4 linked regions of the Homo sapiens genome follow. The protein of the gene in region 1 purifies or fractionates together with the protein of each later gene. This does not show direct contact. Each region holds a gene or a part of one and is shown in the gene's direction. Other genes may lie near its edges.

Region 1 (3,500 bases):
GTCATCTGGCCTTTCGTTGGTCCTCAGCAGCTGAGGGGACACTTCCAGCTTCCCAGAGTCTTCCTCACCATGGGCCCAAAAGTGGACTTTGTGTACACCTCCAGGTTTCTATTTCATGTCAGACTCTTCCAAACTTCCTTCCAAATTTAGTGAAAGGCCGGGAGTGGTGGCTCACGCCTGTAATCCCAACACTTTGGGAGGCTGAGATAAGCAGATCACTTCAGGTCAGGAGTTTGAGACCAGCCTGGCCAATGTGGTCAAACCCCATCTCTACTAAAAATACAAAAATTAGCTAGGTGTGGTGGCGCATGACTGTAATCCCAGTTACTCTGGAGGCTGAGGCAGGAGAATCACTTGAACCCGGGAGGCGGAGGTTGCAGTGAGCCGAGATCGTGCCACTACACTCCAGCCTGGGCAACAGAGCAAGGCTCTCCATCTTGGAAAAAAAAAAAACAAAAAAACAAACTAAGTGAAACTCTTCCAGCCATACCCTGTGGTGCTTTAAGAAATCAAGACAAGCTTCTTATTTGGATAACCATAGAGAAAAAGCACATGGCCCAGCAAGCACCGCGACAGTCACAAAGCTCAACTTTGATGGCAATGATGGTGTCAGTGACTTTTCCATAATGCGTGTTATGAATTGTGTGCTTTGAAAAACACTGTCACTTCTGATGAAGTTCGGTGCCCCTGCGAGCCTGGGGCTCCACTCCAAGCTGGGCCCTGCTGGCCATGTGCCTCCTGCCTCCCACACCAGGCCCCTTGGCTGGCCTGTCCGTGGTGAGACCCTGGCTCATGCCTGTAATCCCAACACTTTGGGAGGCTGAGGCAAGATGATTGCTTGAGCCCAGGAGTTCAAGACCAGCCTGGGCAACATAGCGAGACCTCGTCTCTACAAATAATTTTTTTTTAAATTTGCCATGTGTGGTGGTGCATCCCTGTGGTCCCAGCTACTTGGAAGGCTGAGGCAGAAGGATCGCTTAAGCCCGGGTGGTTGAGGCTGCATGAGCCGTCATAGTACTACTGCATTCTAGCCTGGGCAACAGAGCAAAACTCCATCTCAAAAAAAATAGGGAGGGGTCCTAGTGAGACCCTGGTACCCACCCCGTCCCTGTCTTCCTCTTCAGATGACCATGCTGACTGTCATAGAGCAGCCAGTACCTCCAACACCAGCTACCCCTGAGGACCCTGCCCCGCTCTGGGGTCCCCCTCCTGCCCAGGGCAGCCCCGGAGATGGAGGCCTCCAGGGTGAGTGTCAGACTCAGACTCCCCTGTGGGAATGAGCAGTGGGTTGGGAATCGGGGAAGTGGGATTCTGGTCCCCACCCTGTCGCTGACTCCCAACTTAACCCTCTAGTGGGCCTCAGTCTTCCCATTTCCCGTTTCTTAGACCCGCCTAAGAGGACCGTCTCCTGGGACTCCTGAATGCTGCAGTCCCTGGAGACCAAGCAGCCCCAGCAGACCCTGCCTGGAGGTCGGGGGGAGCTGGGAGTGGGGATTCTGGATGAGCCTCCCTCCTCCAGGCCCAGCAGGGACACTGACCTCTGCCTACCCCCCCCACCCCAGGGCTGCCAGGAGCCATAGAGAGTGTGAGGGTCCCGCTGCTTCCCCGAAATGGTAGATGCTGGTTGGGGGGCTGGGGCCAGGGTGGGGGTCAAGAGCAGATGTGGAGCTGCCAGTCTGATATGCTTTACCCCCCAGACCAAGTCGGTGCTTGGGGGCTTCCCGGGCCCACCGGCCCCAAGGGAGATGCCGGCAGTCGGGGCCCAATGGGGATGAGAGGCCCACCAGGTGAGTGCCCGCAATGCTGCCCCACAGCTCCTCTGGCCATCCCCTCCACCAGGTGGGCCCTTCCCTGCTCCTGACATGGCCAGGATGACCTGGGCCCTTTCATCTACTTGCCTCTTCACTCAGCACCCCACCACGGAGTGCCCTGCCCACGCCTGGGCTCCATGAAGTCCTCTCTTATGTTCACTGACCCACATTCCCTGGGCACCTACACTTATCAGGCTCTGAGCTGGGCACTGGGTGGGGTCAGACATGTCCCTGCCCTTCTGGAGCTTCCATGCTGCTGGGAGCAGGGCTGGGCAGAGGAGAAGCAGCAATGCTTGCCCCATGTGACCAGGGTTTCTATGAGGGGTTTTGGGGGTTTGGGAGCCCCAAGGAAGGAAGACTCAGCCTGGACGAGGTGGAGAACTAGGTGCTGTGCTCATCCCCCTGTTAGACTACCAGGCAGCCTAGGCCTGTGGACTCCGGGGCCCTCTCTCATGCCCACTGCTCCAGGCTGCCTTGTCCTGTCGCTCAAGGCCACCCTGGGCCTCCTTGCCTCCTGTATACCCACAAATCCGTGTGATTCCATTGCAGGTCCACAGGGCCCCCCAGGGAGCCCTGGCCGGGCTGGAGCTGTGGGCACCCCTGGAGAGAGGGGACCTCCTGGGCCACCAGGGCCTCCTGGCCCCCCTGGGCCCCCAGCCCCTGTTGGGCCACCCCATGCCCGGATCTCCCAGCATGGTGAGTCCCCCTGGGATCCCAGCAGGTGGAGGTGGGGGTGGAGTAGCCATCAGCACAGTGCCCGCTACCATCTGCCACGTGCCTTCTGTGTGCCAGCCCTGCTCACGATAGGCCACATGTGACCCAGTCCTCCAGCAGGCGCCGTTGTCCTCCTGTGGTTACAGGTGAGGAACACTGAGGACCAGAGAGGGAAGGTGGCTTGCCAGGGTCCCACAGCCTGGGCGTAGGGGAACGGCTTCAAACCCAGGCTGCCTCCAGAACCTGTGCTTAGAGCCACCGGGCATCAGGCCCTCCCAAGCCTTGGAACTGGCTGGAATCCAGTTCTCGGAACACTGGGACGCAAAAGACCCGGCGGCAGGAAGTGAGTCCTGAACTCCCAAGGCCACAGGCCCGGCCCCTCCTCCAGGCCCTGACGTGCGTCCTTGGCTTCTTCCCTTTGGCAGCCCAGCCTGACCTGCCCATGGGCTGCCAGGGGTCAGAGTGTGGAGCGCCAGGTTTCAGCCTCTTCTCCACTGTGTTTTTGGTGCACAACCCAGCACACCATTCATTCATTCTGCCATCCCAGCATTCATTCCATCTCACTATCCATACGATGGGGACAATGACAGTGCCAGCCTCCCAGAGCTGCGTAACATCCATGTACAGAAGCCTGGCACACAGTAGGTGGTGGATAAATGGTATCTTTTATTGTCATTCCCATTTGACAGGTGACAGTACAGGCTCTGAAAAGTAGAAAGTGTTGCTGGATGTCACCAGCTGGATTGCAGTGGGGTTAGAACCCACATCTCCCTGCCTCCTGGTCTTGCGGGACCAACACTCTCCACACTCCTCACCCTGGAGCAGGTGCCCAGGTGGTACCAGCCATGCTGCAGGCTGCCCCATAGGGCAGTCCAAGCTGTCTTGGCAGAGGTGGCAGGTGAAGACTAACCACCCCACTCTACCCAGCTCTACTCACTCATCATCTTTGCTCACCCAGGAGACCCATTGCTGTCC
Region 2 (3,500 bases), on another chromosome or scaffold:
AAGGGCAGTTGTGAAAGGGGGGAGATGGGAAAAAAGCCTTGATGGCCAGAGGTACATTCTTATGAAGATCAATTTTTGGAAAAATCTATATGTGGAACTGAGTATCTGGAATTTGATTCTCTCTTGACTGACCTTTCTCAGTGTACTCCTTGACAGTGTTCCTGTTTCCCCAGGGGCGTGCTTGTCCCAACTGAAGGCCACTGGTATAATGGACTCTTTGTAGTAATTGGCTACACCTTTCTAAAACAAGTGGTCCCGTTTAATTAGCTACCTTAGGGTGAAATGAAATGTAGGGAACGAGTCTAAGTCTTTCTTGATGGTAGCTCTCTCCTCTTATTTCTGCATTTATTAAGGTATAAGAACTCTTTGCTCTCATGTGACTTAAAATCAGCAGCTGGAAATATTCTTGTTGCAAGATAAGTGATTAAGCCTCAGGAAAATACCTTGCTTTCTAAGGTCTGTCTGGCCTAAAATACCCTTGTAGCTGCTGTTGGGTTCCAAACAAATGGATGAGGAAAAAGGGTTAGGCCAGATTAGCATGAGGCAGTTTTGGGGAAAAGACAAACCCTTCTTTTGTATGTATGTCTGTGTACCCAGGTGACATGTACAGCCATGATGGGAATACTGATGAGCCAGAATGGGTAAAGACAGAGCGAGAGCAGTTTGTTGAGTTTCGGGATAAGAACCGTGATGGGAAGATGGACAAGGAAGAGACCAAAGACTGGATCCTTCCCTCAGACTATGATCATGCAGAGGCAGAAGCCAGGCACCTGGTCTATGAATCAGACCAAAACAAGGTAAGTCTGGCGAGGCCCACACGCTCTATCCTTGATTGAAGTATGCTTCTAGGGGATCACCTGAACAGTTTCTGTTAAGGTGCATAGAGCATTTAAGGTCTTAATTAGTCTAAGTCAGCCAAGTATCTGAATCTGGCGATTAAAACCTTTCAGGGCAGCACTAGCTATCTGATCTCATTTTAGAAATCCTTTTGCCCAGTGCTGATAGCATTGTAGGAAATTTGGCTTCAGAAAAGAGCCTTTGTGTGTAGCCTGTGCCCAGCATGCATCATCAGGTATTTTTAGATCCCCAGGAATTTTTTTTTTTCTTTGTTACTTCATTTGTTCCTTTACCTATTACAGGCCCATTCTGTCTACTCAAAGCTGGTTGTTTCCTTCTTAAATCAAATAGGCTTTTTTAAATTGGGTCCTTTGTATGGGCTATAAATCAGCTTTTCTCTGGAGCCTGTTCAAATTGTCCTTGATCAATTAATTATCTGAGGTATTTTGTTAAAAGTATTGTTGTCCCTAAGCCCAGTCACCTGCTTCAGAGATTACTCCTGCCCTGCTTGGAGTAAGCTGAAAATCGGTCTAAAGATGGAGATTTTCAGTGTTCTGAGTATATTTTTGTCTAAGCTAATCTTCAATTTCAAATTCAGTTTTTTATTTTAGAGCCTTTTTAAGTGTTGATCTGCTTTAAGTTCTTGCTCAAAGTCACTTTAGTAGCCAGGTGTTGTGTCCTGAGATGTATGAGAAAAGGAAATGCATGTAGTCATCCCTATCTAGGAGATGTTCCATATTTTCCTCTAAAAGGAGAGTTTTCTCCTCATGAAACAAACCTTTATCTCTAGCATTGAGTTGTTGTGTTATATTCTTTCCACCCTTCCACTTTTAACTTTCTTGATAAAAGAAATGTTTAATTGGCCTGGCACGATGGCTCACGCCTGTAATCCCAGCACTTTGGGAGGCCAAGGCAGGCGGATCACCTGAGATTGGGTGTTCAAGACCAGCCTGACAAACATGGAGAAACCCCATCTCTACTAAAAATACAAAATTACCTGGGCGTGGTGGCGCATGCCTGTAATCCCAGCTACTCGGGAGGCTGAGGCAGAAAAATCACTTAAATCACTTTAACACGGGAGGCGGAGGTTGCGGTGAGCTGAGATCGCGCCATTGCACTCCAGCCTGGGCAACAAGAGCGAAACTCCGTCTCAAAAAAAAAAAAAAAAAAAAACAAGGAATGTGTAATTGCTGTTTTCTTCCCTCTTCGTATGTATGTAGGGGGAATGAGGGCTGAGTAGTTCACACTTAATTTAGTAGAAATGAGAATCTTAACTTCTGATTAACCCCAATTCTTCTATAACAGTGTTTCTGAATTTTTAATGGGAAATATGTTCTTCTTCAATTCATTGCTATCTCTACTTTCAGGATGGCAAGCTTACCAAGGAGGAGATCGTTGACAAGTATGACTTATTTGTTGGCAGCCAGGCCACAGATTTTGGGGAGGCCTTAGTACGGCATGATGAGTTCTGAGCTACGGAGGAACCCTCATTTCCTCAAAAGTAATTTATTTTTACAGCTTCTGGTTTCACATGAAATTGTTTGCGCTACTGAGACTGTTACTACAAACTTTTTAAGACATGAAAAGGCGTAATGAAAACCATCCCGTCCCCATTCCTCCTCCTCTCTGAGGGACTGGAGGGAAGCCGTGCTTCTGAGGAACAACTCTAATTAGTACACTTGTGTTTGTAGATTTACACTTTGTATTATGTATTAACATGGCGTGTTTATTTTTGTATTTTTCTCTGGTTGGGAGTATGATATGAAGGATCAAGATCCTCAACTCACACATGTAGACAAACATTAGCTCTTTACTCTTTCTCAACCCCTTTTATGATTTTAATAATTCTCACTTAACTAATTTTGTAAGCCTGAGATCAATAAGAAATGTTCAGGAGAGAGGAAAGAAAAAAAATATATGCTCCACAATTTATATTTAGAGAGAGAACACTTAGTCTTGCCTGTCAAAAAGTCCAACATTTCATAGGTAGTAGGGGCCACATATTACATTCAGTTGCTATAGGTCCAGCAACTGAACCTGCCATTACCTGGGCAAGGAAAGATCCCTTTGCTCTAGGAAAGCTTGGCCCAAATTGATTTTCTTCTTTTTCCCCCTGTAGGACTGACTGTTGGCTAATTTTGTCAAGCACAGCTGTGGTGGGAAGAGTTAGGGCCAGTGTCTTGAAAATCAATCAAGTAGTGAATGTGATCTCTTTGCAGAGCTATAGATAGAAACAGCTGGAAAACTAAAGGAAAAATACAAGTGTTTTCGGGGCATACATTTTTTTTCTGGGTGTGCATCTGTTGAAATGCTCAAGACTTAATTATTTGCCTTTTGAAATCACTGTAAATGCCCCCATCCGGTTCCTCTTCTTCCCAGGTGTGCCAAGGAATTAATCTTGGTTTCACTACAATTAAAATTCACTCCTTTCCAATCATGTCATTGAAAGTGCCTTTAACGAAAGAAATGGTCACTGAATGGGAATTCTCTTAAGAAACCCTGAGATTAAAAAAAGACTATTTGGATAACTTATAGGAAAGCCTAGAACCTCCCAGTAGAGTGGGGATTTTTTTCTTCTTCCCTTTCTCTTTTGGACAATAGTTAAATTAGCAGTATTAGTTATGAGTTTGGTTGCAGTGTTCTTATCTTGTGGGCTGATTTCC
Region 3 (3,500 bases), about 21 Mb from region 1:
TGGACGATATGCACACGCCTGCCCATCCTGGGTGGAATCCTCATGTGCTTGAGAGTCTAACACACTTCCAATAATTCATGAGAAAGACAGAATCATAAAGGAACTTCTCACATACTTAGAACTGAAGAATCATAAAAATACTACTTAGCAAAATGTGTAGAATGTAGTTAAAGTTGATTGTATACAGGGAAATGTAGCCTTTAAAGACAGACTGGAAAGAAAGGCTGCAATTAATGAGTTGAGCTTCCAACTGAAGGACAAAAGAAGCCAGGCCTGGTGACTTATGCCTGTCATCCCAGCACTTTGGGAGGCGGAGGCGGGCAGATCACCTGAGGTTGGAAGTTCAAGACCAGCCTGACCAACATGGCAAAATCCCGTCTCTACTAAAAATACAAAAATTAGCTGGGCATGGTGGTGGGCACCTGTAATCCCAGCTACCAGGGAGGCTGAGGCAGGAGAATCACTTGAACCCAGGAGGCAGGGGTTGCAGTGAGCCGAGATCGTGCCACTGCACTCTAGCCTGGGAGACAAAGCAAGACTCCGTCTCAAAAAAAAAAAAAAAAAAGAATAAACCCGCAGAAAGTAGAAAGGTGATGATTCAGATTGAAGCAGAGACCAACAGACACCCACAGGCAGGAGGCAGAAGTGCTCAGTGGCTATTTGAAGAAGCTCCGTAATAGAGAGATGACCCTCAGGAAAACGCTTAAAACTCCTTCCTAGCTACCCAGAGACTGGACTTGTGAGGAGTTAGGACGCCACCTTTAGGAAGGGTTTCCCTCAGCTTTGTGGTGTAGCCGGCAGGAGAAAACCGATCTAAGAACTGTCTTCTGTCCTCTGTTTACCCAGGACTTGTTCTTTAAGTACACCTGGAATAACTTTTTGCACTTCCAAGTGGAACTATGCATAGCCGCTATTCTCTCCCACGCTGCCCGTGAGGAGAGGACAGAAGCCAGCGGATCCGAGAGCAGGGTGGAGCCTCCGCATGAGAACGGGAACCGGAGCCTGGAGACTCCCCAGCCGGCCGCCAGCCTCCCTGACAACACAATGGTGACCCACGTGAGTCCAAGAAGCATCCATCTTATCAGCGCCAACTGCGCCCCACTCAGACCGTGTCCATGTCAGCGCTGACGTGTGCCGGACCTCACTGTGCAGCTGACACGGGGGCAGGGCTTTGAAAAGGGTCCCCAGGTGTCTGGTCAGACGCTCGTAGACAGTGGGGCTTGAGTGGGTCTTGCAGATCTCATTCCTACCTGCCTTCAGCAGGGGTACTGGTGCCTTCCACGTGCAGGCCTGGCAAGGGTTAGCACTGGATGAGATGAGTTCAGTCTGGCCTCCAGCTGGAGGCCCAGGGAATAAATGCCCAGGGAGCCAGCAGTGTCAGTGATGGGAGCCACACGGTGGGGAGGGGATGCTGAGGGACATGCAGGCCAACCAGGGACTGTCACCCGGATAGCAAGGCCACAGGTATATCGTAGTGTGAGGTGGAGCCCAGGAAAAACATCTCAGGTACAAGAAGTGATCTGTGTCAGGGCCTGGAGGTGAGAGAAAGTGCTGAGGGCAGACAGCCCTAGTCGTTCTTCCGGACACAGAGAAAGAGGGCAGGAGAGTGGCCAAAGTGGAGGGCAATGGAGAGACGGGGAGAAGGCCCAGGGGAAGACAGGGGTCAGGGGGCAATTCCAGGAGTTGGAGGAGAAGGGAGAGGGTCCTTTTCTCGGGCTTCATCTTTAGGGCGCTCAGCAGTATGAGCCCCGAACCGCACCCTCCTCTGGTGTTTGGTGAGGACCGCGGAGGCTGGGGCTGTGCGTGCGCAGCAGTCAGGGCCTGCAAAGTCCACACAGACGTGGCCGCCAGCCAGCCCTGCCCAGTCCAGGGATGGGTGGAGGGGTGCGTGCCGCCTTCAGACCCTGACTCACGCTGTCCCCCTGCCCCGCCCCCCAGCTGTTCCAGAAGTGCTGCCTGGTGCAGAGGATCCTGGAGGCCTGGGAAGCCAACGACCACACGCAGTAAGAGCCGCTCGGACGTGGAGGGACCCAGCCTGGCCAGTCAGGGATGCAGAGACGCACCTCACCCAAGCCCTGGTGACGCTGCGTGCAGGACTGCAGGATCGGGTGGAGTGTAGGGTGTGCGACGTGGCTCCACGTTCTGGGGCTGCTGTGCAAGGGGCCCTTCTACTGGGCGGACAGCTGCAAATGCTACTTGGGGAGGGGACACAGGGAGCCGACAGGAAGCGGTCCCGTCCCCACCAGGCACCTGCTCTGGCCCCCGCCCAGCCTGGCTTTGCCCTCTTGTGGGTCCGCTGTCCGTTCCTGATCTTCCCCAGGAACTCGGGCCCTCCGTCAGCACTCGCACACAGGGACGCGTTATTTTGGTCTTTCCATCTTCTGCTTAATGGGTGCTCCCTCTGGTCAGGACACATGTCCCGCTTATTGTCGTGGGCCCAGAGCCATCCCCACCCGTTTGCTGTCCTGCTGGGAACTGTCTGGCTCTGGGCGATATGAGGAGGGACTCCAGGGAGCTGGGAGGGGTCTGAGTGCAGCTGTGGGGAAGCAGAGGCCGAGCTGGGCTGTACAGCATGGAGGTCCCGCCCAACCCTCCCCTTGGGGTGCTGAGCCTGAGCTTGGTAGCTGGCAGCATGGGCTCACCTCCTGCGCCACTGCTGCCACCAGCGGGACTTAGGCCACGCCACGGCCTTTCTGCCTCCATTTCCCTGTCTGTAAAATGGAGTGAGAGCAGTGTCTGTTTCCTCATCTGTCTCAGTGGCACTTTTGGTAGTGAGGTTGGGGTGAGCCTGCTGCACGTGGCAGGTGCTACTCAAACAGAAGTGTCCTGGAGGAGGGCAGGGGGCGCGGACACTGGGCAGGGGCCGGGCATTTGCTCTGGAGGTGAACCTGGAGGAGGGCAGGGGGCGCGGACGCTGGGCAGGGGCCGGGCATTTGCTCTGGAGGTGAACCTGGAGGAGGGCCGGGGGCATGGATGCTGGGCAGGGGCCGGGCACTTGCCCTGGAGGTGAACCTGGAGGAGGGCTGGGGGCGCGGACGCTGGGCAGGGGCCGGGCATTTGCTCTGGAGGTGAACCTGGAGGAGGGCTGGGGGCATGGATGCTGGGCAGGGGCCGGGCACTTGCCCTGGAGGTGAACCTGGAGGAGGGCTGGGGGTGCGGACGCTGGGCAGGGGCCGGGCATTTGCTCTGGAGGTGAACCTGGAGGAGGGCTGGGGGCGCGGACGCTGGGCAGGGGCCGGGCATTTGCTCTGGAGGTGAACCTGGAGGAGGGCCGGGGGCATGGATGCTGGGCAGGGGCCGGGCATTTGCTCTGGAGGTGAACCTGGAGGAGGGCCGGGGGCATGGATGCTGGGCAGGGGCCGGGCATTTGCTCTGGAGGTGAACCTGGAGGAGGGCCGGGGGCGCGGACGCTGGGCAGGGGCCAGGCATTTGCCCTGGAGGTGAACCTGGAGGAGGGCCGGGGGCATGGATGCTGGGCAGGGGCCGGGCATTTGCCCTGG
Region 4 (3,500 bases), on another chromosome or scaffold:
CTCGGCTCACTGCAACCTCTGCCCCTTAGGTTCAGGCAATCCTCCTGCCTCAGCCTCCCGAGTAGCTGGGATTACAGGCATGCACCAACACGTCTGGCTAATTTTTATATTTTTAGTAGAGACGGGGTTTCACCACGTTGGCCAGGCTGGTCTCGAACTCCTGACCTCAGGTGATCCACCCACCTCGGCCTCCCAAAGTGCTAGGAGTACAGGCGTGAGCCACCGCACCCGGCCTATTATATTTTATTTTTGAGACTGAGTCTCACTCTGTCGCCCAGGCTGGAGTGCAGTGGTGCGATCTTGGCTCACTGCAACCTCTGTCTGCCGGGTTGAAGCAATTCTCCTGCCTCAGCCTCCTGAGTAGCTGGGACTACTGGCAGGCGCCACCACACCTGGCTAATGTTTTGTATTTTTAGTAGAGACAGCGTTTTGCTGTGTTGGCCAGGCTGGTTTCAAACTCCTGACCCCAAGTGATCCGCCCGCCTTGCCCTCCCAAAGTGCTGGGATTATAGGCTTGAGCCACCGCACCCAGCTCTGTATAATTATTTTTATTTCAGAACTATTTGGAAGTATGTTGCACATGCATTATTACTCTTTACCCCATTATACTTCAGTTTATTTCCTAAGAACAATAATATTATCTAAATATCCATAGTAATTAAATTCAGGAAACTTAATATACTAGATACAATGCTTGTATTCAATCTGTAGTTCATATTCTCTTTTTGTTAATTGTCACAATAATGTTCTTTCTAGCACCTTTTTTTTTCCTGGTACAGGTTCCAGTTCAGAATCATGCTTCCTATTTATTTGTCATCTTCCTTTAGAATTCTTTAATCTGGAACAATCCTTTGGCCTTCTTTGTCTTTTTATGCCAATGATATTTTTTAAGAATATAGGCTAATTACTTTGTCAACATTCCTCAATTTGGGTTTCTATTATGTGTCTTCACAGTTACATTCAGGTTGTGTATTTTTGGCTGGACCGCTATATAAATGTCCTCCTCAGGATATCACGTCAAGATATGTATGATGTTTGTTTGCACCCTTATTGTTGATGTTAATTTTTTGTTGTTGGTGGTAGTAAGTATGTAAGGCTTTTTTGTTGGTGATGGTAGTAAGTATGGAGGCGTGTTTTCAGAGTCAACCAAAGTGGAAATAATAGTTCAAAGAGTAAATGTTTCTGTAAATTAATTTTAGTGTTTTAAGGTATCATTTTGTACTTCCTACCAGCAATGTTTGAAAGTGCCTGTTCCTCCACAGTCTTATGAAATGTGTGCAACCCTTCTGGAGTCTTTTGCTTCTAGCTGCATAAAGGGAGAAAAGGGAGGGAGCCAAGGATCATGTGGGAGATTTTAGGGATTAGGCCTGGAAGTAGCATTCCTTAATTGTTACTCTCAACATGTCATTGGCCACGACTAGTCATATGGCCCCAACCTAGCTGCATGGGAATTGTAGTCTTTGACTATATTTAGGTTCACCTTACTCTCTTTCAAAGGCTGTGTAGATTCTGTTATTTTTATATACTGTAATTTATTAATCCTCATCCTATTGATTGGCATTTAGGTACTTACAAGTTTGTTTGTTTGTTGTTATAAACAGTGTTTATGTATGCCTGTGTCTAAAGAAAATTTCCTAGAAGTAGACAGCTGGGTTGGAAAATATGTGTATTTTAACCTTTGATAAATTTTGCCAAATTGTTCTCCAAAAAGTTTGTTCCTGTTTTGCTTCCATCAACAGAATATGAGAGTGTAAGTTTCACTGTTCTCTTCTTAATACTACAGTATGAATTTGTAAAACTTTTGCAATTTGGTAGTTTAAATTATTTTGGGGGTAATTGTATTTCCTAATTACAAAAGAGGTGTAGTGTCTCTCAATGTTTTTTAGACATTTTAATAATTTCTATTAATATCATTTGGCCATTTATATAGTGGATGTTCATCTTTTTCATATTGATTTGAAACAACTTTGTATATTAAAGATTTTCAGCTCCTTGTAGGTGTTGAAAATATTTTTCTTTTTCTTTTTTTTTTTTTTTTTTTGGAGACGGAGTCTTGCTCTGTTGCCCAGGCTGGAGTGCAGTGGCGCGATCTCGGCTCACTGCAAGCTCCACCTTCCGGGTTCACGCCATTCTTCTGCCTCAGCCTCCTGAGTAGCTGGGACCACAGGCGCCCACCACGACGCCCAGCTAATTTTTTGTATTTTTAGTGAGACAGGGTTTCACTGTGTTAACCAGGATGGTCTCGATCCTCCTGACCTTGTGATTCGCCCGCCTCAGCCTCCCGAAGTGCTGGGATTACAGGCGTGAGCCACCGCGCCCGGCCTGTAAATATTTTTCTTTTAACTTTTTCATTTGGGCAGGAGGCAGTAGCATATTAAGAAAGTAATGGATCCACTGCTCTGAAAATTTATATGTTTTGTTTCAGATCATTATGTAGAAGTTCTGGAATGCAAAATACAGTGTGAAGAGAACCTCACCCCAGTTATAGGAGGCTATCCGGTTGAGAAATTTGTGGCTACCATGTATCATTACTTGCAGTTTGCCTATTATAAGTGTAAGTAATCTTCTGTGACATCTTGGGTGAGGCACTTAGTCCTTCTAAGACTGTAAAATAGAGGTAATAACTCTTAGCTACGGTTGTTGAGAGTTCATCAAGGTCCACTGACAACCCTGGTGCTATGCTTTGCACAAAAAGGCAGCATGGCTTAGTGATTCAGGGCAGAGCCTGTAACCACAGTGCCTGGGTTCGATTTCAGCCTTATCACTTACTAGCTTCTCTGTGCTTTAGTTTCCTCATTGTGAATAGAGATTGTAGTACTAACCTCATAGGATTGTCCTGAGGAGTAAATGAGTTAATAGATGTGAAATGTCTGGGGTATTCCCACACTGGCACATAGCAAACTGTGTGTTTGTTTTTGTTATCATTATTTCCCTTCCTCCTTATCACTAGCTTTACTTTTCAGACTGTTAGAGTTTATTTTCTTTTCTTTTTTCTTTCTTTCTTTTCTTTTCTTTTTTTTTTTTTTTTTTTTTTTTTGAGACAGAGTCTTGCTCTGTTGCCCAGGCTGGAGTGCAGTGGTGTGATCTTGACTTACTGCAACCTCCGCCTCCCAGGTTCAAGTGATTCCCCTTCCTCAGCCTCCTGAGTAGCTGGGATTACAGGTGTGTGCCACCACGCCTAGCTAATTTTTTGTAATTTTAGTAGATATGTGGTTTCACTATCTTGGCCAGGCTAGTCTTGAACTCCTGACCTCAAGTGATCCACCCACTTCAGCCTCCCAAAGTGCTGGGATTACAGGTGTGAGCCACTGCGCCCGTCCTGTTAGTTTCATTCTAGTTGGTCCTCCCTTGATCTGAAATGGGAGTTTCTCAATCAGAACGTTCTAGTGGACAATGGGAAGCAAACGTGGGAGAGAAGGAAGTTCAGGGTTAGACTTCAGAGCCTGCGTGTTTCGGCTTTTCCTCCTCTCCCTGTACCTGACTTTGCCAAGTGCCACTTG

Evidence for each region. The genes of interacting proteins can lie anywhere in the genome.
Region 2: the proteins of EMID1 (region 1) and CALU purify together in Homo sapiens (affinity purification with mass spectrometry; one large-scale study listed by BioGRID and IntAct). This does not show direct contact.
Region 3: the proteins of EMID1 (region 1) and PPP6R2 purify together in Homo sapiens (affinity purification with mass spectrometry; one large-scale study listed by BioGRID and IntAct). This does not show direct contact.
Region 4: the proteins of EMID1 (region 1) and CRTAP purify together in Homo sapiens (affinity purification with mass spectrometry; 2 studies listed by BioGRID and IntAct, with this or other methods). This does not show direct contact.

What each region holds. Positions count from the first base shown.
Region 1 is NC_000022.11:29,229,896-29,233,395, forward strand, and holds part of EMID1 (EMI domain-containing protein 1 isoform 1 precursor), read left to right. Parts: intron 1-1,124; coding exon 1,125-1,245; intron 1,246-1,386; exon of another isoform or gene 1,387-1,421; coding exon of another isoform or gene 1,422-1,470; intron 1,471-1,562; coding exon of another isoform or gene 1,563-1,613; intron 1,614-1,697; coding exon 1,698-1,787; intron 1,788-2,360; coding exon 2,361-2,507; intron 2,508-2,671; exon of another isoform or gene 2,672-2,868; intron 2,869-3,483; coding exon 3,484-3,500.
Region 2 is NC_000007.14:128,766,859-128,770,358, forward strand, and holds part of CALU (calumenin isoform a precursor), read left to right. Parts: intron 1-597; coding exon 598-797; intron 798-2,204; coding exon 2,205-2,309; 3' UTR 2,310-3,500. UniProt on the Homo sapiens protein: Involved in regulation of vitamin K-dependent carboxylation of multiple N-terminal glutamate residues. Seems to inhibit gamma-carboxylase GGCX. Binds 7 calcium ions with a low affinity.
Region 3 is NC_000022.11:50,430,327-50,433,826, forward strand, and holds part of PPP6R2 (serine/threonine-protein phosphatase 6 regulatory subunit 2), read left to right. Parts: intron 1-846; coding exon 847-1,056; intron 1,057-1,938; coding exon 1,939-2,003; intron 2,004-3,500. UniProt on the Homo sapiens protein: Regulatory subunit of protein phosphatase 6 (PP6). May function as a scaffolding PP6 subunit. Involved in the PP6-mediated dephosphorylation of NFKBIE opposing its degradation in response to TNF-alpha.
Region 4 is NC_000003.12:33,127,514-33,131,013, forward strand, and holds part of CRTAP (cartilage-associated protein isoform 1 precursor), read left to right. Parts: intron 1-2,425; coding exon 2,426-2,554; intron 2,555-3,500. UniProt on the Homo sapiens protein: Necessary for efficient 3-hydroxylation of fibrillar collagen prolyl residues.